Linked DNA regions of Homo sapiens: all the other regions are linked to region 1. The links come from fine-mapping of genetic effects on gene expression. A gene starts in region 1. Each other region holds a variant in brackets. All regions are shown on one strand. Distances are from middle to middle. Region 1 holds the start of ZNF23 (zinc finger protein 23). Region 2 overlaps TLE7 (TLE family member 7). Region 3 overlaps LINC02136 (long intergenic non-protein coding RNA 2136). Region 4 overlaps TLE7 (TLE family member 7).

Region 1 (2,684 bases):
GAGGGTAGGAATGGGAAGGGAAGGGCATTCTAGATTTAGAGAACAGCATTTTTAGCATGTAGGGCTGAGGTAGAGTCAGGGAATGAATGGGAGTGATAAGAAGCCACAGAGGCAAGTGGGAGCCAAATACCAGTCTCCAGTGCAGCAGCGTTGGATGGATCAGAGCTGGAAGGAAGAAAAGCCCACATTACCAGGGTTAGGGGGTGTGTGAGGGGGTGGGGATTTTAAGGGTCGTCCAATCCAGTGGCATTTAGTACTGTCTCCCTTCCCCCAGGGCTCATTTTGGAATTTTATGGTAGGTATTTTGTTATATTTGGTGTCAGTGGTAACATTGCTACTAGCGTTGTGGATAGGAGCCAGGATCCTGCAATGTACAGGACAGTCCTGCCCACTGAAAAAATGTTCACACTTTCAAATGTCTTGCTGAACATTCAGGTAGGTGAAAATTCTATTTCTAAATTATCTGAATCTAAACCTGTTTTCTGGATAAACATGTATTTTTGCACAGTTTTAACATACACTGATCTTCCAGGAATGTAATTATTGTATAATCAAGAGACGATTGTCCTGTGTTTCATTCAGAACTTCACGAAAACATGTTTGCCATTTTGGATCATAATTTTGTGACTTTTGCAACAATGTAAGTCACAGCTTTGTGGCTGTGGCACTCAGACAACGTCTATGTGTAAAGGCGACCACCTTATTAGGTCTCCTGCAGCAGCCAAGACCAAACACATTGAAGTATGTGTTTTTAAACGACAGATGACGGTCCTCTTTTTTTTCTCTTTCATTACACTTAAGGCATAACATTAGTTTTTAATATGTAGGTGTGTATGTTATGTATGATTTTCTAGGCCATTATATATGAATATCAGGTCAGGAGAATAAGATGGACATTACAAACTATTTGTTAGAAAAAGGGGGCATTGGGTGTGACAGCGCGCCATCCACTGGTCCATTTCCAAGACTCCCACACGTGGCTGCACCTGCAGCTTCACCTCCCCGGGCTGGGTCCCCGCTTGGCTCTGATTCTTACCTGCCCCATTCCCCAGGGGTAACAGTCACCGTGGGCCAGACCCGAGCTAGCCGACAGGGATGCGGCCACAGCTGGCCGGGCGTGACCACCACCGAGGCGCAGCGACCTTGCTCCTAGAGAGGCCCGGCCGCCTGGTGACGCACTTCCGGCAGCGCCGGGGAGCAGTCCGCTACGGAGGTGAGTGCAGGGCTCCGGGCGCTGTGTGCCGTGCCCTGTCCCCCAGGCTCTGGGTCCGGTTGAGACGCACTCCCACCCTGGGTGCTGCAGGGTCTCCCGTGGCCTACGCTGCCAGGAGGCCCAGGCTGGGAGAGGGAGCAGGGCGGCGGCCCGGGGTGCTCTTCCGCGCTCCTCGACTCCAGCTTTGGTCTTTGTGGCTCAATAGCTTGCGCCCATTGGAAGGGGAAACGCACGTTGCTGTCCCAGCCACGAGGCCCTGAGCATTTAGCACTTGGTCGACGGGGGAAGATGTGTCGGTGCAGCTAAAAGATGGAATATTTGCGGGCGTGAAGCGGCCCGAGGTGATACCACAAGTCTTTTGACATGCTGAGGTCTGGCAGGAACATTAACCTATGTGCATCCCGAGTATGGACCGTGTGCTCCCAGGCTCCTGACATAGGGTCATGAATTAGGGCCGAGTGGGAGCGCAGAGCCCCTCCCAGTCACCCGGCAGCAGAAGCAGCCCGGCTTTTGGAGGACATTGTCTCCTGGAGCAGTGTCAGTCCCAAAAGGTAACTCAGCCCTGCTTCTCTCGGCTCAGGGTTGACAGTGACCTGGGAATGACTTCTACAACGTAATTACGAATTCACTCAGTTTTAGAATATATTTAGTAGTCTCAGAATCGCTAATTCATACCCCCATGAAAAGCAAATTTACTACCTAAAGTACAGTACTTGGATACAGGTCTTTTTGTCTTTACTCTTATGGTATTTAGTCAAAATACTGTTTTCCAAAGTTGCTTACCCCTTTTCTTTCCTACCACTTAAGTGTGGTTATGTTCACTGTAGTATAGTTAAGCACATTGGCTGTTCTTTGTATTACATTTTGGGTCCTCAATTTCACCCCATCCTTGCTGGTTTATATATTTATTTAAAATATATATTTATATGTTACATATATAGTAGTAAACATCCATGAACACACCACCCAATTAAGAAAGAGAAGATTGCCAGTACTGCTGAATTTATCAATGTGTTCCTCCTCCTCAACCCAACTCCCAGCCTCCAACCCCTAGAGGTAACAGTTATATTGACTTTTGTGTTAATTGTAGCCCTGTTATTTTAAAAAATAATTACATATGCATGTATCTGTAAGCAATGTACTTAAATTTTTTTTTTGAGCTTCATATAAATGGCACCATTGTGTGTATAAGTCATCTGGGACTCGCATAATTCAATGTTAAGTTTCCAAATTCATTCTGTGTGTAGCTTCTGGGTAATGTTCCATTGTAAAAACTGTATGAAAATTTATCGATGTATTTTCAATGGACATGTGGGTTGTTTTCAGTGTTTTGTTATTAAAATGTGCTGATAATATTTTTGTACGTACTTCCTACATATGAGAGTTTCTCTAGTGTGTAAGTTTTTAAAATTAGGCACAAATGTTGAATTATGTTAAACATCTTTGGCATCTGTTGAGATGGACAGTGTGT
Region 2 (2,684 bases), 30 kb after region 1:
TTTTCAGTAGAGATTGGGTTTCACAATGTTGGCCAGGCTGGTCTCAAACTCCTGGCCTTGTGATCTGCCTGCCTCAGCCTCCCAAAGAGCTGGGATTACAGGTGTGAGCCACCGTGCCCGGCAGGTGAGTTTGATTTTTAAATGACCAGAAATACAGTCCATTTGCATAAAAGGAAAAATACAATGCCTGGCACTAACATCTCAAAGTGCTTGTGTGACGCTTTCACCCTTGACATCATTGCCGCCAACACCTAATGTGAAAAGCTAGTTGGCAACCACTCTTTTGAATCTTTTCACCAAAGGAGACATTCTCTGCCCCTTCTAAAGAGACCCTACAGAGCACATGTGCATAGCTGCGTCTCTTTTTTTTCACCTTACAGGGGATCAGGACACACTGGGAACCTGGTGTCTGTTTGGCGGGTCTATTTGTCAAGTCCTAGAACCGGGTGGTCCAGACACCTCACTGATCTAAGAACATGAGTGGAGAGAAGGAAGAGGCATCGCTCAGAATGTTCGGGGCTTATGGTGAGCCAGAGGAGAGGAGGGATGTGCTGGAAAGCTCTGGCGTTTCCTCTCAGCCTGAGCCACAAGTGCAGCAGCAACTGGGCAGTCTGTTGGGAGTGCCCTGGCAGCCCCCGGGCCCCCCAATACAGCACAGCCCTGCTGATCAAGAGACAAGCACGGTGACCCAGCAGCAGTGGCACCTCCAGGGCCTGGGTAGATCTGAGCTCCAGGCCGCTGGGCTCCCTGATGCACAACCAGGAGAAGCAGCAGAGTCCAGCCCAAGGCAGGTCTTGCTTGAACCTGACTCAGTGGGGGTGGCAAACTGGACTGGGGAGAGGGCATCCCAGCAGGAAGCTCTGTGGCTCACACTCTGTCTCCTCCCTCCCTCTCTCCATGTGTTGTAGCTTCCTACTGGGTTCTGAGGTTGGTGAGTACCAGTCATAGTGGTGCGTGTGGTTGCCCAAGCTGGGCCCCAGATGGGGGACTAGGAACGGGGGCCTGGTGTCAACAGAGCAGGCTTCTCCCTGAAGCGTGGGACTCTGTGAGCAGGTGGGCATTGCTCTTTCCCTGCAGGCCAGCCTTACTCTTCTTCCTCTCCCAGTGAAGAAGTCCTCTCATTGCTCAGAGCAATTGTAAGTGTCCAACTTCATACTCAGGATCCTTCCTTTCCCACCTACCCCCAATCAAGAAACC[A/G]TGTGTCCACACTTTCACTCTCTCTCCCATAGGTAGGGGGGTGTCCTGGGCTCCTGCTCCTTTTGAGCTATGTTCCCTGTTCCCCCATCCTGAGAAGTAGGGTCTTCAGCTCACAGTGTCATTTCTTCAAGAGCTGTGACCCTGGGAACCAGGGGCCAGGTTCTGCGGTTGGGTGGGTGGATGGGTGGGTGGTTAAGAATCTAGCTGGAAGACGGGGTGGACTGTCCTATTAATGATAGCAGGTCAGGGCCACTGCTACCCACCCTCTCCTTGCCTAGCCCCCCATTCCAGATGAAGTTGTGGTCAGGCAGAAGAGGGCCCCACAGGGCTCCTGGAAGGTTGGCACACTCTTCCATGGAAAGAGAGTCTACGCTGTGGCCATCAGCGGCTCAACCCACCACGTGTACACGTGTGGCTCTGGCTACATCAGGGTATGGGATGAGAGTGCGCTGCATGCGGGGGAGAAGGCCCCTCGGGCCCAGCTGGACTTGCAGGTGAGGGAGATCCAAAGCAGGACTCAGGGAACTCTGACAGGGCCTCTGACGTGAGACCCAGGTTCGGTGCCCCAAGGGGATACCAGTGTGTGAACCCTTCCTTACAGCATCCCCAGGACCGTGTTGTTACCTGCAAGCTGTTCCCTGATGAGCGGAGCCTGATCACAGGGGGTGCGTCCCAGGCCGTGACTCTCTGGGACTTGGCACCCACCCCCCAGGTCAGGGCACAGCTGACCTCGACGGGCCCCACGTGCTATTCTCTGGCTGTCTCCTCTGATGCCCATATCTGTTTGGCTTGTTTCCATGGATTTGTTGAGATTTGGGATTTGCAGAACCAAATCTTGATCAGGTATGACCTCTCTCCAGAGCCACTCAGGTGTACCTGGGGGAGGGCTTGCCAGTGAGGCTCTTTCCCCTCTTTGCATTAGGGCTGGGCGAGTCAGTGTAGAAGATATATCTGGGGTACTCCTAGGGGCTTCCTGACCCTGAAACTTCCCGGGGGCCCAAACCATTCAGTGACCCTCTGAGTTGTTTTCCCACCCACCAGGAAGCACGAAGTTCCTGTATACGGGTCCCGATGTGTGGACATCACCGGCAATATATTCTGGACAGGAGGTGAAGACACCATCCTGTATTCCTGGGACCTGAGGAGCTACCAGAGGCTGCACCAACACAACTTACAGAATGAGGTGCCCGGCTGGCCACCACTGGCAGAATGCCACCTGTAGTGGAGCCATGCATGGAGGCAGGGGTGGGAGTGTGAGCTTGAGAGGTGGGCACAAAGGATGGCGTTGGCAACTTTGAGTGCTGACCTCAAACCTGCTTCCACGAACAGATCCTCAGCATTACCCACGACCCCGGTGAAGAATGGGTATTGGCGGGCCTGAGAACGAGTGATATCGTGTTCCTTCACACTCGTCGGAATGAGCAGTTTAAGGCTCTCATGAAAAAATACACCCGCCACCACAGCCTCAAGTTTGCCTCCTGTGGTGA
Region 3 (2,684 bases), 40 kb after region 1:
CTTCTTTGGCTGGCATTTGTGTGTTTGTTTTTAGACAGAGTCTTGCTCTGTTGTCCAGGCTGGAGTGCAGTGGCATGATCTCAGCTCACTGCAACCTCCGCCTCCCAGGTTCAAGTGGTTCTTGTGCCTCAGCCTCCTGAGGAGCTGGGATTACAGGCATGTGCCACCACTCCTGGCTAATTTTTGTATTTTTAGTAGAGATGGGGTTTCACCACATTGGCCACGCTGGTCTCGAAGTCCTGACCTCAAGCGATTTGCCCGCCTCAGCCTCCCAAAGTGCTGGGATTAGAGGTGGCCACTGCGCCCGTCTTTGGCTGGCATTTGGTCCTTTCCCTGGCCTACCCCAGCTCTCTGCTCACCAGACTGTGCATCTGAGACATCCAAGAAGTCATCACTTTTGTGAGGACAGACAGCGCCATCCACTCAGGTTTTGTCTCTACTGTATCCATCCCAGTGTCTCTGACATGGAAAGCCATCTCTCTCTAGGTGTGGTTTTTTTTTGTTTTTTTTTTTTTTTTTTGGTTTGAGAGACAGGCTCTCAAGCTCTCTCACCCAGGCTGGAGTGCAGCAGAGTGATCACTGCTCATGGCAGCCTTGAACTCCTGGGCAATCCTCAGCCTTGAACTCCTGGCCTCAAGCAATCCTCCTGCCTCAGTCTCCGGAGTAGTTGGAACTACGGGTGCACACCACCACATCTGGCTAATTAAAAACATTTTTTTTTGTAGCAACAGGGGGTCTCAAAGTGCTGAGATTACAGGCATGAGCCATGGCACTTGGCCCTTTCTTTCTTTCTTCTTTTTTGTTAGGGGCTTCCTGGAACTTGAATCTTGAGAGAGTCAATGATTTCATCATGCAGTGAGAGGAAAAATTCCCTTGTGTATACGGGGCCCCTGATATGACTTCACCAACAGGGTCCAGAAGATTCCACAGTGGGGCACTAATAAGAGAGGAGCCCAACACAGTGGCTCACACCTGTAGTCCCAGTACTTTGGGAGGCCAAAGCAGGAGGATTGCTTGAGCCCAGGAGTTTGAGACCAGCCTGGGCGACCAAGTGAAACGCCTATCTCTACGAAAAAAAAAGTTAGCTGGATGTGGTGTCATGCACGTGTAGTCCCAGCTACTTGGGAGGCTGAGGCAGGAGGATCACTTGTGCCCAGGAGTTTGAGGCAGCAGTGAGCTAAGATCATGCCACTG[C/T]ACTCCTGCTTGAGTGACAGAGACCCTGTTTCAAAAAATAAAGGCTGGGCGCAGTGGTTCACACCTGTAATCCCAGCACTTTGGGAGGCCGAGGTGGGAGGATCACCTGAGGTCAGGAGTTCGAGACCAGTCTGGCCCACATGGTGAAACTTGTCTCTACTAAAAATACAAAGAAATTAGCTGGGGTGTGGTGATGCATGCCTGTAATCCCAGCTACTCAGGAGGCCAAGGAGGGAGAATCACTTAAACCCAGGAGGTGGAGGTTGCAGTGAGCTGAGATGGTGCCACTGCACTCTAGCCTGGGCGATAAAATAAAATAATAAAATAAAATAAAAAAGAAGAAGAAAGGAGAACCTCCTGGGGCAGGTCACTAAATCCACCATCATGCAGAGTGAAGCTGCCCAGGGCCTCTGGTAGGGTTGTCTGCAATTTCTGGCCCTTCCTCCAGGGGGAAGCCTTGCATTGCATCTTACACCCCAGTACGTGGCCATGGATGCAAAGGGCCCTGTGCAGGAGACCTGGACTGGCTGCGTGACCTTGAGAATGTCTCTTCCCCCTCTGGGCTTGTTTCTCCTCTGTGAATGATGGGGTCAGTCCTGGAAACCACTGTGCGCGGTTGCTGGAGTGATCTATTTATCCCCAGGTCTGCCATGCTTGGCTGTGAGACCTTTGACAAGTATCTTAACCTCTCTGTTCCCATAAGATGGTGATCATACCTGAATCTACTTCACTGGGCTGCTGAAGGGAGGTTATATTATAGAGTGGACAGAATGTGCCTAGCACGGGAAGGCAGTGGCTGGCTGATCACTGATTGTCACTGATCACTGACTTGCGGCCACTTAGAGATGGAGGATCCCTCCTGGCCTGGCTGAGCCCTCTCTCCTCACCACCTGGTGTGGAATGGGTCCAGTTATTCTCAAGACCCTCTGCTAGGAAGTAGGAGTGGCTTCCAGAGCTGCCAAATTTCAGGCCTGTCTGTTATATTCCCCCGGTTCCCACCGGGATAACTGAGGAATGCCTGCCACTCACCCACAAAAAAGGATTTATTTACAGTATAAAATTTATCATACATTTCTTTTCTTTGAAGTGAACATAACCTCAAGATTTTATTGTCTTCATAATAAAACAAAAGATGAAATTTAGAACTGAATCACTTGGCCCTTTCTCTTCTTATCTCCTCCCAGTTCAAAATGCTTGCATGTCCTCATAGCCCGCATCGTCTTAGATCTGTAGCTGGGCTCAGCGCTCAAGCCTCAGCACCATCTCCTTTGTAGTTTTAGCCTTTTTCTGGAAAATCGGCTTACAGAAATCAGTGGCCTTGATATACACAAACAATACTTAGGTTAGAGGACTTAAGAAAACCCCATGTATAATAGCAACAAAGAAGATTAAATACTTAGAGATAAACTTAATAAGAAATGTGCAAAGTCTATAAAAGGAAAATTTTACAACACTTCTGGAAAACACAAAAGCACGTGGAGTGGGAAGAC
Region 4 (2,684 bases), 22 kb after region 1:
TGGCGCACGCCTGTGATCCCAGCACTGTGGGAGGCCGAGGCGGGAGGATTGCTTGGGGCCAGCAGTTCAAGACCAGCCTGGGCAACAAAGTGAGACCCTTGTCTCTACCAACAACAAAAAAAAGTGAACTTTTCTTACAAAATAAATCGAGTGAAATCCTGCTGCGAGGCCCACATTGTAGAGTTGCTGTCGAGGACTGTGGGGGAGGCGGAAAGTTGCCGGCGGGCTCCTGAGAGTGACTGAGCAGGGGGCTTTGGTAACAGGTCCCTGGGGAGATAAGAGATGGACCCAGGACAGAAATCGGAATGCAGGACTTGGGAATGCAAACTTCCCATGGCAGGGACGGGACGCGAGGTGGGTGGGAAGAGCAATGTACGATGCGGGAGACGCCACCGTGCTTGTGGGAAGGGCAGCGTCACCATGCTAGGAGGAAGGGGCCTTGGCAAGGAATGGGGAGTTGGGGCTCCCCGTGACAGTGAGGGAGGAGGTGGGAGGAGGGGCCTGGCCGTGCATTGTCCCTTCCAGGTGCCCGCCAGAGGGCGCGTCAGCCCTCAAATAAAGATCTGGAGGCTCACAGTCGCAGTTCTGCCCAGATGACCCCATCTCTGACCTTTGTGTTGGCCCACTAGGTGTTGGGGTCCCACCAGCCATTTGACGACAGCTACCCATAGCCTCCGGGCTGGGACACCTGCAGCTGTGTGGCTCTTCTAGGGGAGCAAAGGGAAGAAAACCACCAGCTAAAGTGCCTGGAGTTTGCTGGCTAAAGGGGAAGAAGGAAAAATGCTGTTGGGATTTGCAGGACCCCTAACTCATGACCCCATGTCTGGTTTTGGGTCTTTCTTGTAAAATACACATAACATGAAATTTAACACTTTAGCTATTTTTTTTTTCTTTTGAGGCGCAGTCTCGCTCTGTTGCCCAGGCTGGAGTGCAGTCGCCCGATTTCGGTTCACTGCAACCTCTGCCTCCTGGGTTCAAGTGATTCTCCTGCCTCAGCCTCCCGAGTAGCTGGGATTACAGGTGCCCGGCTCATCTTAGCTATTTTAAAGTGTACAATTCCGTGGCATTAGGTACATCACAATGTTGCACAACCATCACCACCCTCTAGTTTCAGAACTTTTTTGTCATCCCAAAAGGAATTCCAGACCCATTAAGAAGTGGCGTCCCATTCCCCTTTGCCAGTCCCTGGCAACCACTAACCTGCTTTCTGTCTCTAAGGACTGGCCTTTTGTGGATATTTCATGTAGATAGAATCATGCAGTATTGGCCTTTTGTGTCTGGCTTATTTCACATAGCATAATATTTTCAGGTTCACCCATGTGGTAGTGTGTATCACAGCTTCATTCTTTTTATGGCTGAGTAATGCTCCGTTGTATATTTACACCACATTTTGATCCATTCTTCAATTGGGGGACACTTGGGTTGTTTCTTTTTGGCTA[C/T]TGTGAATAATGCTTCTGTGAACACTGGTGTCCAAGAAATGTTTAAGTCCCTGTTTTCCATTTTTGGGGGCATATACTTAAGAGTGGAGCTGCTGGGTCACATGTTAACTCTGAGGAGTTGCCAAACTGTTTTTCACAGTGGCTGCTCCGTGGTATTCCTATCAGCAACGTAGGAGGGTTCCAATTTCCCCACATTCTCACCAACATTTGTTATTTTCTGTGGTTTTGGTGGCTGTCATAGCCATCCTAGGGTGTGTGAAGTGATCTATTACATGTGGCTTTGATTTCCATTTCCCGGATGACTGGTGATGTGGAGTGTCTTTTTCTTTTAGCTGGTTCCCAGCCTCCAGTCTTGTCCCTTCCCCCCATTCTATCCCTAGAAGAACAGCTACAGTCCTCCTTCTGAAACCCAACTCTGATTATGTCTCCCCCAGCTCAGAACCACCCCCAAATGCCTTCCAACTCTCTCTGGAAAGGAGGACACATTCCTGCCCTCCCTGCCTCCAAAACACACACCCTCTGTGCTCCAGCCCCTAGAAAATTCTCCCAATTGCTAAAATCCATTCCTTTGCCTCTGCCCTTCTGTCTGTCTGGAACATTCTCCTATGCTCTCTGCTACCCTGCTTCCCCCGCTGAGTCCTTCCATCCTTCTGACCTTACGTACTCCCTATCACCTTTCACTTCCAGGTTATGTGACTTTCTCTGGGCTCACACACCCCACCCCTTTACAGCCCTCCTCCTCCACCATGTCACTTTCCACTCTGACTTGTAATCTCCAGTTCAGTGGTCAGTTTCCCTTCAAAGAGGGAATTCCACACGGGTCATGGTCAGCTCTGTGGGCCCAGCCTCATCTCCTCAGTGCCCAGCACAGCGGGGGTCAGTAAGACTGTGCCAACTGGCCACGGGGATGGAAAGGTGGTGGGGAAGGGGCACAGGTGTGTTTGATTACTATCATTAGCCCTGTTTGCTTTCTCTGCGTGGAATCAACTTTACCCTGGTTGTGACAGTTTTGGTCAAGGGGGTCCCACCTGTTGCCCACATACACCTGAATTTCAACTATGGCACATCCTGAGCTCAAGCTGGGTCCCTCTATCCACGGCTGAGGGACAACAGGATGCACTCTCTGTCCATCTGGTTATTTCTAAAGCACCAATTGCCTTTAACTTGCCTCTGGGTATAAGAACCACGGCTCTCTTTGACTCTTGCAACTCCTCGGGCTGTCCCTATTTTCGCTTTTTTTTTTTT

What was found. PIP is the estimated chance that this variant, and not a neighbour inherited with it, causes the effect.
Region 2: its variant is fine-mapped to the expression of ZNF23 in whole blood (TOPMed, PIP 0.92).
Region 3: its variant is fine-mapped to the expression of ZNF23 in prostate (GTEx, PIP 0.97).
Region 4: its variant is fine-mapped to the expression of ZNF23 in whole blood (TOPMed, PIP above 0.99).

Annotation. Positions count from the first base shown.
Region 1 is chr16:71,460,739-71,463,422 of GRCh38, reverse strand. ZNF23 (zinc finger protein 23) reads left to right here and starts at 1,176. Exons shown (of 5, transcript NM_001381984.1): 1 at 1,176-1,213. It overlaps LOC124903709 (a long non-coding RNA gene), which reads right to left and starts at 1,111. Exons shown (of 2, transcript XR_007065105.1): 1 at 131-1,111. RefSeq lists enhancers at 1,058-1,217, 1,488-1,577.
Region 2 is chr16:71,431,117-71,433,800 of GRCh38, reverse strand. TLE7 (TLE family member 7) reads left to right here. Exons shown (of 10, transcript NM_001367365.2): 2 at 381-787; 3 at 909-931; 4 at 1,078-1,136; 5 at 1,476-1,691; 6 at 1,799-2,040; 7 at 2,239-2,380; 8 at 2,527-2,680. The coding sequence starts at 477. Among named protein-coding and RNA genes, the nearest start is that of TRM-CAT2-1, 6.0 kb to the right of the region's middle. The variant A/G (reference allele first, on the strand shown) is at 1,198.
Region 3 is chr16:71,421,171-71,423,854 of GRCh38, reverse strand. All of the region lies in intron 1 of LINC02136 (long intergenic non-protein coding RNA 2136), which reads left to right. Among named protein-coding and RNA genes, the nearest start is that of LINC02136, 4.0 kb to the left of the region's middle. The variant C/T (reference allele first, on the strand shown) is at 1,195.
Region 4 is chr16:71,438,689-71,441,372 of GRCh38, reverse strand. The region is part of intron 1 of TLE7 (TLE family member 7); the gene reads left to right. Among named protein-coding and RNA genes, the nearest start is that of TLE7, 2.0 kb to the left of the region's middle. The variant C/T (reference allele first, on the strand shown) is at 1,440.